2 separate regions of the Homo sapiens genome follow, and region 1 is linked to region 2. Evidence: fine-mapped expression QTL. A gene starts in region 2. The other region holds a variant in brackets. All regions are shown on one strand. Distances are from middle to middle.

Region 1 (5,209 bases), 46 kb after region 2:
TCCCGAGATGGACTTGGATGTAAGTGGTGGACACACTACCTGTAGCACCTGCATAAGGGTAAGGGGTCCCTGTATGGAGTTGAGGGGGATTCTCTTTCCTTTACCATGCACTCAGCATGTTCATGGCCTTAGCATTTCTTGGACAGTATTTGTAAGAGGAGGAAAATGGGGGCTGGGACATGGTGGGTCAGACCTGATTTCGTCAAACAAGTGTTGGTTACCTTCTACTAAGGGCTGAGTGCTGTGGGGTTTTGAGGATGAGCCAGACATGTTCTCTGCCTTCAAGGAACTCCTGGTCTTGGAGGGGTATGAGTCCCAACACCACTAAGTAGAATACAGGCAGAGAGTGCTGCGCGCAGTCAGAGAGGGCACACAAGTGCTATGGGAATTCAGAACAAGGGGATGTCACTTGAACCTGAGAGGGGTAAAAAAGGCTCCTTAAAGGAGGGATGGGGGTCTCTGGAGTTGCGCCTAGAAGGATGAGATCCATTTTGTAGGATTTGGACATATGGAATGGGAGGGTAGGTAAGAACAGCATGTGTAAAACCATAGGGGGAAAAAAGAAATTTTAAAAATATATAGAAAAAGGGTCACAGACTGGGGGTCTTGTTACTTCCTCCTTTTCCTACTTGCTTCTGTTTTTGTTTTGTTTTGTTTTGTTTTGTTTTTGAGACAGGGTCTCGTTCTGTTGCCTAGGCTGGAGTGCAGTGGCATGATCATGGCTCACAGTAGCCTCGACCCCCTGGGCTCAATCGATCTTCCCGCCTCAGCCTGCCATAGTGCTGGTATTATAGGTGTGAACCACCGTGCCTGGCCCTGGCCCTGCCCGCCTTGGGTTTTGATTATTAATTCTCTCTCCTCTCCCTATCAGAAGAATTTTGACTTAGTGAGCTATATTTTGATGCTCCTGCCAACTGGGAGTTCACTATTGGAGGCTACCATTTAGAAGGAGATTGTGGATAAATAAGAGGTGTATGGGGGGTGGTGCCAGCAGCATGGTGGGTTTTTTGTTTTTTTGTTTTCTTTTGAGACGGAGTTTCGCTTTTGTCACCCAGGCTGGAGTGCAATCGCGTGATCTTGGCTCACTGCAACCTCCGCTTTCCGGGTTCAAAAGATTCTCTTGCCTCAGACTCCCGAGTAGCTGGGATTACTGGCGCCCACCACCTCACCCCGCTAATTTTTGTATTTTTAGTAGGGTTTTCCCATGTTGGCCAGGCTGGTCTTGAACTCCTGACCTCAGGTGATCCACATGCCTCGGCCTCCCAAAGTGCTGGGATTACAGGCATGAGCCACCGTGCCCGGCCGAGCATGGCGATTTTTAGAGGAGGTCACTCTTAAGTCAGTACACAAGGTCTGAGCTTTCCTTCCCGTTACAGTCCCGAGCCTTCCTGAAGGACTATTACCGGGACCACAACATCGAGCTCTCCAAGCTGCTGTATAAGATGGGCCAGACACTTCCCACTTGGCTACGAGAGGACCTCCAGAACACCAGGTAGCCGTGGCCACCACAGCCAGACTGAACGTTTGTGAAAGCTGGGACATCCCACCACACGCTGAGCCAGACCTGCAGAGTGGGAAGCTGGACCAGGGCAGCTGCGCACTTATGAGCAATACTCTGTGGAGGTCTGGTGGGGCTGGGGGAGCACCCAGGCGGATCTGCAAGCACCTCGGAGCACCCACCGCTGGGTCTGCGGCCTAAGGGACCTCCCTCGCCAGCAGAGGTCCATTCCGTTCCCAGCTGCTCCTGGGGAGGCCGCTTCCTGGTAGGAGGGAGTCCACGAGACTCTTTTCTGTCCCTCACTGTGTTCCGCCGACTGTCCCCTCTCGTCACCCATCACTCCCTGCTTCCGCAGGGCGCCCCTCAGTATTCGCTGCCATATGTCCCTGTCCTCCAGGCTGTAGGGGAGGAGAGCCTGGCCGGGGGAGACAGACTGGACATTTCCCTGTTTCGAGCCAGGCTCTTCCAAGGGGCCAGCTGGGTCCCCGGAGTCAGTCCTAGGCTGGATGGGAGGGTGGCCCCCTCAAGAGGACTCCCAGCCTCCACATCTGGTTCCTACCTTCACATCTCACCCTCCCGTTCTGGGGAAGAATTTCTGGTTCCTACAGTATCCACTCCATCCTCAAGGCTTCCCGCAGGGCCTTGGGGCACTGCCTTGCCATCGGGCCCAGTTCTCCGGGCCCCACCTGCACCCCTTTCTTCCCCCTGGGATATGATGTGTGGTGTTTCCTGTGGTAAAAGACTGAGGCAGGCCAGGGGTCTGCCAGTAACATGTTCCCATGTACAGACACGGTCCCCACACCCTCCCAGCCTCAGGCCCAGGCAGACATGGGCGAGCTGGTGAGACTGCCAGCCACGGCTTTGCTTAGCCACCTGTGGCCGAGGGCTCTCAGAGACCCCCTTAACCTCCCAAATACTAAGAAGCTAAAATATTTTAATATTTTGTTTTTTTTTTTCTTGGTGCCAGAGTTTATACCCTGGGTGCTGGGGTCGCACTGTGTTATATATATATATATATATATATAATGTGTATATATATATATTCTATTTTTTTTGGTTGGGTTCGTTTTTAATTCAGTCCTACAAAATGGTGGTAAGCCCCAGTCTCAGGGGTCACCCTGTCTTAGAGCTAGAGATGAGGTGGCAGGGAGGGAGGCTGTGTCCTCAGTGGCCTGGGGCTGAGCAGACCTTAGGAAGGGGCCCTCCCCAGTGCCGT[G/A]GCTGCTCTGGGGCTACCCCAGGTGAACAGAGGTGGTGAGATGCGCAGGGAAGACCAGCTCTCTCCAGGACATCGGGCTGCGTGAAGTCCAGTGACCCTGAGGGGATTTTGGCCAAAGGAAACAGCCAGGGCTGGGCTAGGAGAGCTGGGGTCAAAAGCTGCCCCACCCACTCTCCCTCACATGGTGCTAGGCTGGGAGCTGCCCTGAGAGCTGGGATGCCCACCAAGGCCCACAGAACTGTCTCCAGGCCCTTGTAGACAGTGGGATCTCTGGGCTGATTTCTGGTTGGGGTCTGCTCCTACCCCACCCCATTTAACAATGTGAAGTGACTGAGGCTGGGGTGCCTCTCCCTGGCCCCCTCCAACTGCCAAATTCTGCTTCCCTCTGAACCCCAGGAAATACTTTCTGGAGAGGCTTGTCTTGTTCAGAAGACTCTAGCATCTTGGGGCTGGAAGGTCCTTTGACGGGTATGAAACAGGTCCAGAAAGGGGAGGTGGCCTGCTTGGCCGACGTCATGGAGCCAGCTGGGAGCAGGGCTGAGCGTTGAACCCGAGGCTCCCGGTTCCAAGTCCCATCGTGCTCCTCTTCCAATGCCACACTGCCTCTGAGCCCATCCTTGGGACCCTACTCTGTGCCAGGTTCCTGTCCCTTCCTCCGTCACAGCATGGTCATTCCAGGATATGGGGACAAACCACTCCTTCCCAGCCAGGGTGCCTTTGAGCCTTCTCATTCCGAGGTCTGCGTTTGCATCCCTGTCGTGTTCTCCCTCGAGGGGTCCTTCCCCAGCCTGTGGGGGCCTGGGTCTGTTCTGAGCTGATTCCCTTTTCTCCAGTTCTCTGCTGGGATGAAGAAAGTTGGACACTCAGTGGGACCAGCTGCAGGTGGTTTCACTGTGTACACAGCAGTGTCCCCATCATGCCTCTCAATGGGGCCTGCAAGCCTGGGAACTTGGGCATCGTTGGGCCAGCAGGATGAGCAGCAAAGGGTCTGAGGACAGGGTGGCATGTCTGCTTGTGTGCTCATGAAGACATGCCCACGCCATGGAGCCAGGGGCTTATAGAGAGGGGCAGTGACTTCCAGAGTCCCATCCGTCAGTGAGGGGACTGGGCTGCGGGATGGGTGAGGATCTTACAGCTCCCAGGTTCGGAAATCTACCCTCTAGGCCTGGAGGCCTCTCTCGCAGAGCATGGAAGGCAGGAGAGGTGGGCTGGCCTAGGGCAGGAGCTCCACTTCTCTCTGCCTCTGGCTATGGGAAGGAGCAGGCGGTTGGAAATCCTGTGACAGCAGAGATCTTCTGGATTTTTGCCTGGACCCTTCTGCAAGCCTGGAGACTGGACCTGCCACATGTTCCAAGTCTGTCTGCCTAGGTCACTGCTGCCACTTCTCCTCCCACTAACAGACCTTTCTTGAAGACCCACTAGGTCCAGACACTGCCGGGACTTGCAGGTATGGGGGGTAGAAGGAGAGGCAGATAAGCTGCCTGGGGGGCTGTTAGCTAATGGGTACAAGGACACCCCCTCCCGAGAAGAGAAGCCACAGATGAGTGGGCCAGCGAGGCCAGTCTTCAATGTCCACTAATTCACTCTAAGCATTTGGCCAAAAAAAGGAGAGAGAAATAACTGAAATTGTTCAGGTGGCTCCATCGTCTATTCTGTGGTCCCCTCCATGAGCCTTTGCCCCAGGGTGGGTGCAGGTGCGAGTGTCACCTGCAGCTGCCTCAGTCATTCAGAGTTCCAGAGCCTTCTGTGGTGGAGCATCCTGCTGCTTGGAGGATGAGTCTGAAGTTTAAAAATGGGCCTTTTCTGAGCCCCCCTGATGAGCAGTCAGTGCTTCTGGGCCCAGCTAAGGAAGCCATCTGTTCCCAGCAGAGGAGAGCTGCTGCGCTGACCTGCAGAGGTTGGTGGTCCCAGCACAGAGCTGTGCCCATGGGCTTGTTAGTGGGAAAAGCAAATACAACAATGTTTTACCAAACATTTAATTATGAATGCCCACTCCCCAGCATCTAGATCTAAAATTATTAACATTTTGCCACATTCTTTTTCTCTCTCTGTGTATGTATATGTTTTCTCTGTCCTAATTTAAAAGTACATTGCAAACATCATGAAACTTGATCCCTGAAAGCTTCAGCCTGCATCTCCTAAGAGTTAGGGCATTGTCCTACACATTGGCCCAGTATCACAGCCAAGACGAGAAGTCATTTCCCAGCGATGTCTGCTATCTAATCTGTATTCAAATCCCCCCAATTGTCTCCCAGGTAACTTATGTGTCTGGTTTTGGAATCAGCATCCAGTCACGGTGCACACATTGCATTTTCTAACTATGTTTTTAAAACCTCTTTGAATGCTGAAAGGTCTTCCCTCAGCTCACTTTGAGTTTTTAAATGACATTGTTTTTGAGGCCCTAGGCCTGCTGTCTTTTTGAAGCCCCACATTCTGAATTTGTCAGATTGTTTGCTCATGGTGTCGCATAACCACTTCTTCTATCCCCTGTACTT
Region 2 (5,215 bases):
TGCCATAGTGCAGTTGTAGCTCACTGCGGCCTTGAATGCCCGGGCTTCCAGCAATCCTCCTACCTCAGCCTCCTGAATAGCTGGGACTACAGGCTCGTGTCACCATGCCTGGCTTCATGATTCTGTTTTATGTGACCAAACTGAGGCCGAGAAAGGAGTGGTACTTGCCTGAGGTCACAGGCAGGTTGTGTAAGAAGGCCGGGCCTAGGATGAGGCAAGTGAGGCATCTAAGTGCAGCGTCTCAGGAGGTGCCCGCTGTGTGCTTGCACATTGTGGAGAATAAGAACCTTTGTTTTTGAGAGAGGGTCTAGCTGTGTCGCACAGGTTGGAGTGCAGTGGTGCAATCTGGGCTTACTGTAGCCTCAACCTCCTGGGCTCAGGTGATCCTCGCACCTCAGCCCTCCCATATAACTGACTATAGGCACACGCCACTACGCTGTCTAATTTTTGTAATTTTTTTTTGTAGAGAAGGGGTTTTGCCATGTTGCCCAGGCTGGTGTTGAACTCCTGGTCTCAAACTCCTGGGTCAACCTGCCTTGAGCTCCCAAAGTGTTGGGATGACAGGCGTGAGCCACTGCACCTGGCAGTGAGCACCTTCTAAAAGGCTCCTCGCGGGCCTCACCTGAGCCTAGTCCTGGGTGAGTTCCTGATCTAGGACTGGAACCCTGGTCTCCTGGCCCCATGAACTGTTCTGGACCCCTGCGAGGTACTTTTTAGAGTCTCGCTGAGGCCTCCTATTCCTCTTTAAAAGGAGCCTCTGTGAAGTAGGTCACCCAGTGCTTTTTGCTCCACGTTTCTGTTCTCTAGCTGTTGTCTGTGTCCTAGAGAAAGCCGGGCCCACTTGCCCCCACCTCTCCCCACCTTCTGCCCCCTCCCCCTGCCAGCTGCGCCTCCATGTAAGTACTTTGAGTCCCTTAACACCCCAAGGCGTGTTGGTGGCCAGCTTTTGTCGTGATGACAAGCCCCAGCAAGTCTACAGGGACTGGCTGCTTTCATGTGGGCCCTCGGTGAAGCCTCCTTGGTCTCAGCAGGCCCTGTGTTGTACCCACCAGGCCTCTAGGAGATTAGGGGGCTTCTGTGGCTCCAGATGGCTCAAAGCTTTTCCCTTCCTCTGTGTTATCCCTAGCCCACCTGGCTTCCGTCCTCACTGGCCACGGGGCTTGGGGGATTTTCAGTCTCTCCAAGGCTCTGGCATCTTCCAGAGTGGGCTAGTCTTGGAGTGTCCATCTGAGCCATTCTTTCTGTCACCACTGCTGGGCCTGCCTGCTGGGCCTTAGGTGACTTCTTGAGAGGTGGCCAAAGCTGCTAATCCCTGGAAGGGGCTCCTAGGATTTCCCTGTGGCTGGCAGGACCCTTGGCCACCCACGTGGTGTGACATGAGGAGCCTGGAAAGCCAGCCCAACCTCCATCCTTAAGCCCCACGTATAAACATACCTTTTTTTTTTTTTTAACTGCAGCTCTCAGAGCCTGCAGTTCTACTGTTGTCAGGTTGCCTTGTGCTCTCCTTGGCATCCTCTAAGAAGGCAAATACCTTTTCAGCTGGGTGCTTTTAAGCATTTGCTGTCAAGAAGCAAGCCCTGGCCAGCCTGGCCCTTTTCCAGTGTTCTGTGTGACCGTGGCCAAGTTGCTTCTCTTCTCTGGGTCTCGTCTTTGTAAGACCCTTTTCAGCTCTAGCACTTTGAGGCTCCAGCATGGATTCTTACACCCTCCACACCTTTGCCGGTCACCTTTCTTCCTTCTCTGCAGGGTGGGGCACAGGGAAGGGCCTGGCAGCTGAGCTGGGTGGGGCCAGGGGCCAAAAGCCAGCATCATAGACACTTTTCCCTCCAGCTGGGCATACCAGTCCTTCCTCTTCTTCTCAGGACAGGTGGGGAAACTGAGGTCTGGAGGGGGAAGGGCCAGGGCTGGAACCAGGACCCAGTTATCCTTATTGCCAGTGAGTGCTCCTCCTGCTGTTGGCTGCTACCTCTCTTGAGAGGGTCAGAAGACCCACTAGCATGAGGGTCAGGGACATGCTTTTTCCTTTCCCGTGGAAGGCTCCTCCAGGCAGGGCTTGGGTGAGGCAGGCGAGGTGCCAGTGGTTCCCTGGGCACGGGGCAGAATCGGAGGAGGACATCCTCTTTCTGAGGTTAAGGAGGTAGGGGCTGGAGGCCTTGACAAGGGAGGTGGCATGAAGGGGCGTGGAGGTTTCTAGGAACGTGGTTGGTGGCGCAGGGTGCTCTAGGGCCACCTCCCTCCCTTGCTTCTGCCTTCCCTTTCTCCTGGGGAGGGGACTGGGCCAACAGTAATGCCATTTTTCCTGGCCCTGGGATTAGGTGCAGCCGTGTTAAGGAGAGGACATTCGAGAGGGCGTGGCGAAGTGAAGAGGAACCTCACGCCACTGCCTGGAGCTCCGGTGGGTCTGGGTCTGGTCATTGTCTCGCTGGCTCCTGTCCACTCTGACCACTGTCCCTGGCCCCCTGCCCTGTCCAGTCCTTCCAGGTCCATCTGAGTGTGTGTGTGTGTGTGTGTGTGTGTGTGTCCCCAGGAGGGATCTGGGGGTACAGGCTGGCACTTGAGCCTGGCACTGGGTCCTGCCTTCATTCCAGATCAGAAGCAGCTCCCGGAACTGCCCCAGGGAGAGGTCTAGGCTGACCTGGCAGATTCCTGATGGAGGAGAAGGAGGAGGAGGCTGAGGGATGGGAAGGAAGGGCTCAGTTTCTCCTGTGGCTTCTCCAGACAGCTAGGCATGTCCACAAATCCACCTGAAGCCAGCAGGTCCAAGAGTTTAAAGATTTATTTCAGGGCCACGGGGGAAGCTGAAATGGTGAGATCCCAGGGCTCTCAGATGTTGTGTTTGTGGCTTTGGTCCTGTCTAGACTGTGAGAGCCATGGCTTGTCAAAGCCAGAGGGGCCCCTAGAGAATTTCCATGTTCTTAACTTGGCTTTTGATGGGGGCCAGTCACAACCACTCTGAATTTGTGTGTCTGGGGAGAGAATCTGCTAATAGCCATCATTAGATTCTCAAAGGGTTCTATAACCCCCAGAAGGTCACAGACTTCTCCTCTAGTCCATACCCCTCACTGCAGTTGCAGAAACTGAGGCTCAGAGAAGGGAAGGGACTTGCCCAGAGACTCACAGGCGGCAATGGAGGCTGTGGCACCCCCTGCCTCTGTCTTCCTGCCAGCATTCTGCCTGACCTTACAAGCTGGGGAAGCTTGGCTCATTCAGGGGACAATGACCTCTCATCCCCTGATGAGAGGAAGGGGATGACTGGGAGGGAAGGACTGGGAGGCTGTTGTGGTTTCCAGGCCCGCATGGATTTTGGCTTCTGCATCCTTGAGATGGAGGCCCCTGAGTCTGCCTGTGCCTTGGAATCTCTCAGGGTGTATCTGAGGCCTGGAGTCGGGCATGCGGGAGGGTGGGGGCTAGTGGTGACCCACATTTCCCAGCTCCTCTGCAGGGGAGGCAGATAGGGGAGAAGCTCAGGGTGTGATAAAATTGTTTTTACTTCACTGGGCATAAATGACAAATAAATGAAGTGAGGGTTGGGAAGTGCTTGGTAGAGCGCCTGGCACATGCCAGGCCGTGAGGCGAGGTGCTCACCATTGTCCTTTGCGGTGCCCTGCTAGCTGAGATCTCCTGCTTCTGACCCTCGCTCCTGCCTCTTCCTTAGCATGAGGCCTCTGCCTGGGGCAGGAGGTGGCCCCCCTTTCTTTATTTTTTTTGAGATGGAGTTTCGCTCAGGCTAGAGTGCAATGGCGCCATCTCGGCTCACTGTAATCTCCGCCTCCCAGGTTCAAGCGATTCTCCTGCCTCAGCCTCTGGAGTTGCTGGGATTACAGGCATGTGCCACACACCTGGCTAATTTTGTATTGTTAGTAGAGATGGGGTTTCACCGTGTTAGCCAGGATGGTCTCGATCTCAGGACCTTGTGATCTACCCGCCTCAGCCTCCCAAAGTGCTGGGATTACAGGCAGGGGCCACTGCCCCGAGCCGCCATCCCCCTTTCTTATATTGGGGTGTCTGATGGGGGCGTGAGGACCCTCTGGCTGAAGTCCTGCCTTGCTGGGTTCCATGGTGCACCTCTCTGCAGTGCAGGCTTTCCCAGGAGGCTGAAGCTCAGCTAGAGAAGCTGGGTCAGCAGCCCTGGGCCTGGTCACCTCCAGGAAGCCTCTCTCCTGGGCTGCAGACCTGGCTTGGGAGTGGTGTGGAAAGTAGGACTGCAGAAGGGTAACGAACAGGGGCTGTGGGGTGGGCTGGGAGGGGCATCCTAGCTCCACCTCTGCCCAGCTGTGTGACTTCGAGCGGTTGCTTACCCTCTCTGAGCCTCCATTTCCTTGTCTGTAAAGTGCTCATAGCAGTGACACCTCTTTCAGGGTGTTAGGATTGAGCGTGATGGAGCAGGTAAGGCTCCTGGCACAGCCCCACATGTTCGCAGGAGCTTAACGTTGGCCGCCAGTAAGGGAGGTTATGATATGTGTTGGGATATGCTGCTTTGTTCCTTTTGAGTGTCTGTGATCTGAGCCTAAGGAAAAAATAGTTCTGGATGGATTTGACTCTGTCATAGGCAGATTTGGGGATAGGGTGGGCAGAGAGCCCCATTTTGGGAAGATTTGTGGCCACTGCATAACATTCTGTGTGATGGACCTGACAGCCTTGGTGTGCGTGAAGAGCCTCAGTGGGACTGTCAGGACTGTCCCGTCCTTGGGACGGGAGGGTGGCAGGTGACCTGCCGTGTTCCCCACACAGCCCCACCCCCAGGCTGTCTGGTATGTTTGCTCGGTAAGCCCTTTTTTTCAGAGCTGGTACAAAGGTAAACTCGCAACTCAGGCCCTGTTGGAAGAAGGACACATTCTCAACAAGTGAGGTCTAAGTTCCTGAGGTTTTCTGTTGGGCCTTCCCTGCCAGGGAACCCAGAACAGATTCACAAGTTGAGAACCAGGGAGTGAACCAGTAGTGCTTAATGCTTTGTTTCCTTGTTGATTGACGGATGATCTGTGAGCTACTTCCAAGAAAGATCACTAGAGGCTGCTTGTGATACTAAAACACATATAAAATGGATGAAAACAAACACAGACAGAAAACTATTGAAAAGGAATGGAGAAAGGGATGTGCAGGGCATCTGGCAAATGTTAGCTGTCTTAGGTGATCACAGAGGGGCTGCGGAGATGGGGGATGAGGGGCCCAGGCTCTGGAGCCCAGCAGCTGTGTGCTGAAGTTCCCATTCACCCCC

The links. PIP is the estimated chance that this variant, and not a neighbour inherited with it, causes the effect.
Region 1: its variant is the best candidate, but not a certain one, in a credible set for the expression of NDST1 in visceral fat (GTEx, PIP 0.55).

Annotation. Positions count from the first base shown.
Region 1 is chr5:150,551,837-150,557,045 of GRCh38, forward strand. NDST1 (N-deacetylase and N-sulfotransferase 1) reads left to right here. Exons shown (of 15, transcript NM_001543.5): 14 at 1-19; 15 at 1,377-5,209. The coding sequence ends at 1,496. Among named protein-coding and RNA genes, the nearest start is that of NDST1, 46 kb to the left of the region's middle. The variant G/A (reference allele first, on the strand shown) is at 2,715.
Region 2 is chr5:150,505,832-150,511,046 of GRCh38, forward strand. NDST1 (N-deacetylase and N-sulfotransferase 1) reads left to right here and starts at 2,300. Exons shown (of 15, transcript NM_001543.5): 1 at 2,300-2,395. RefSeq lists an enhancer at 4,284-4,857.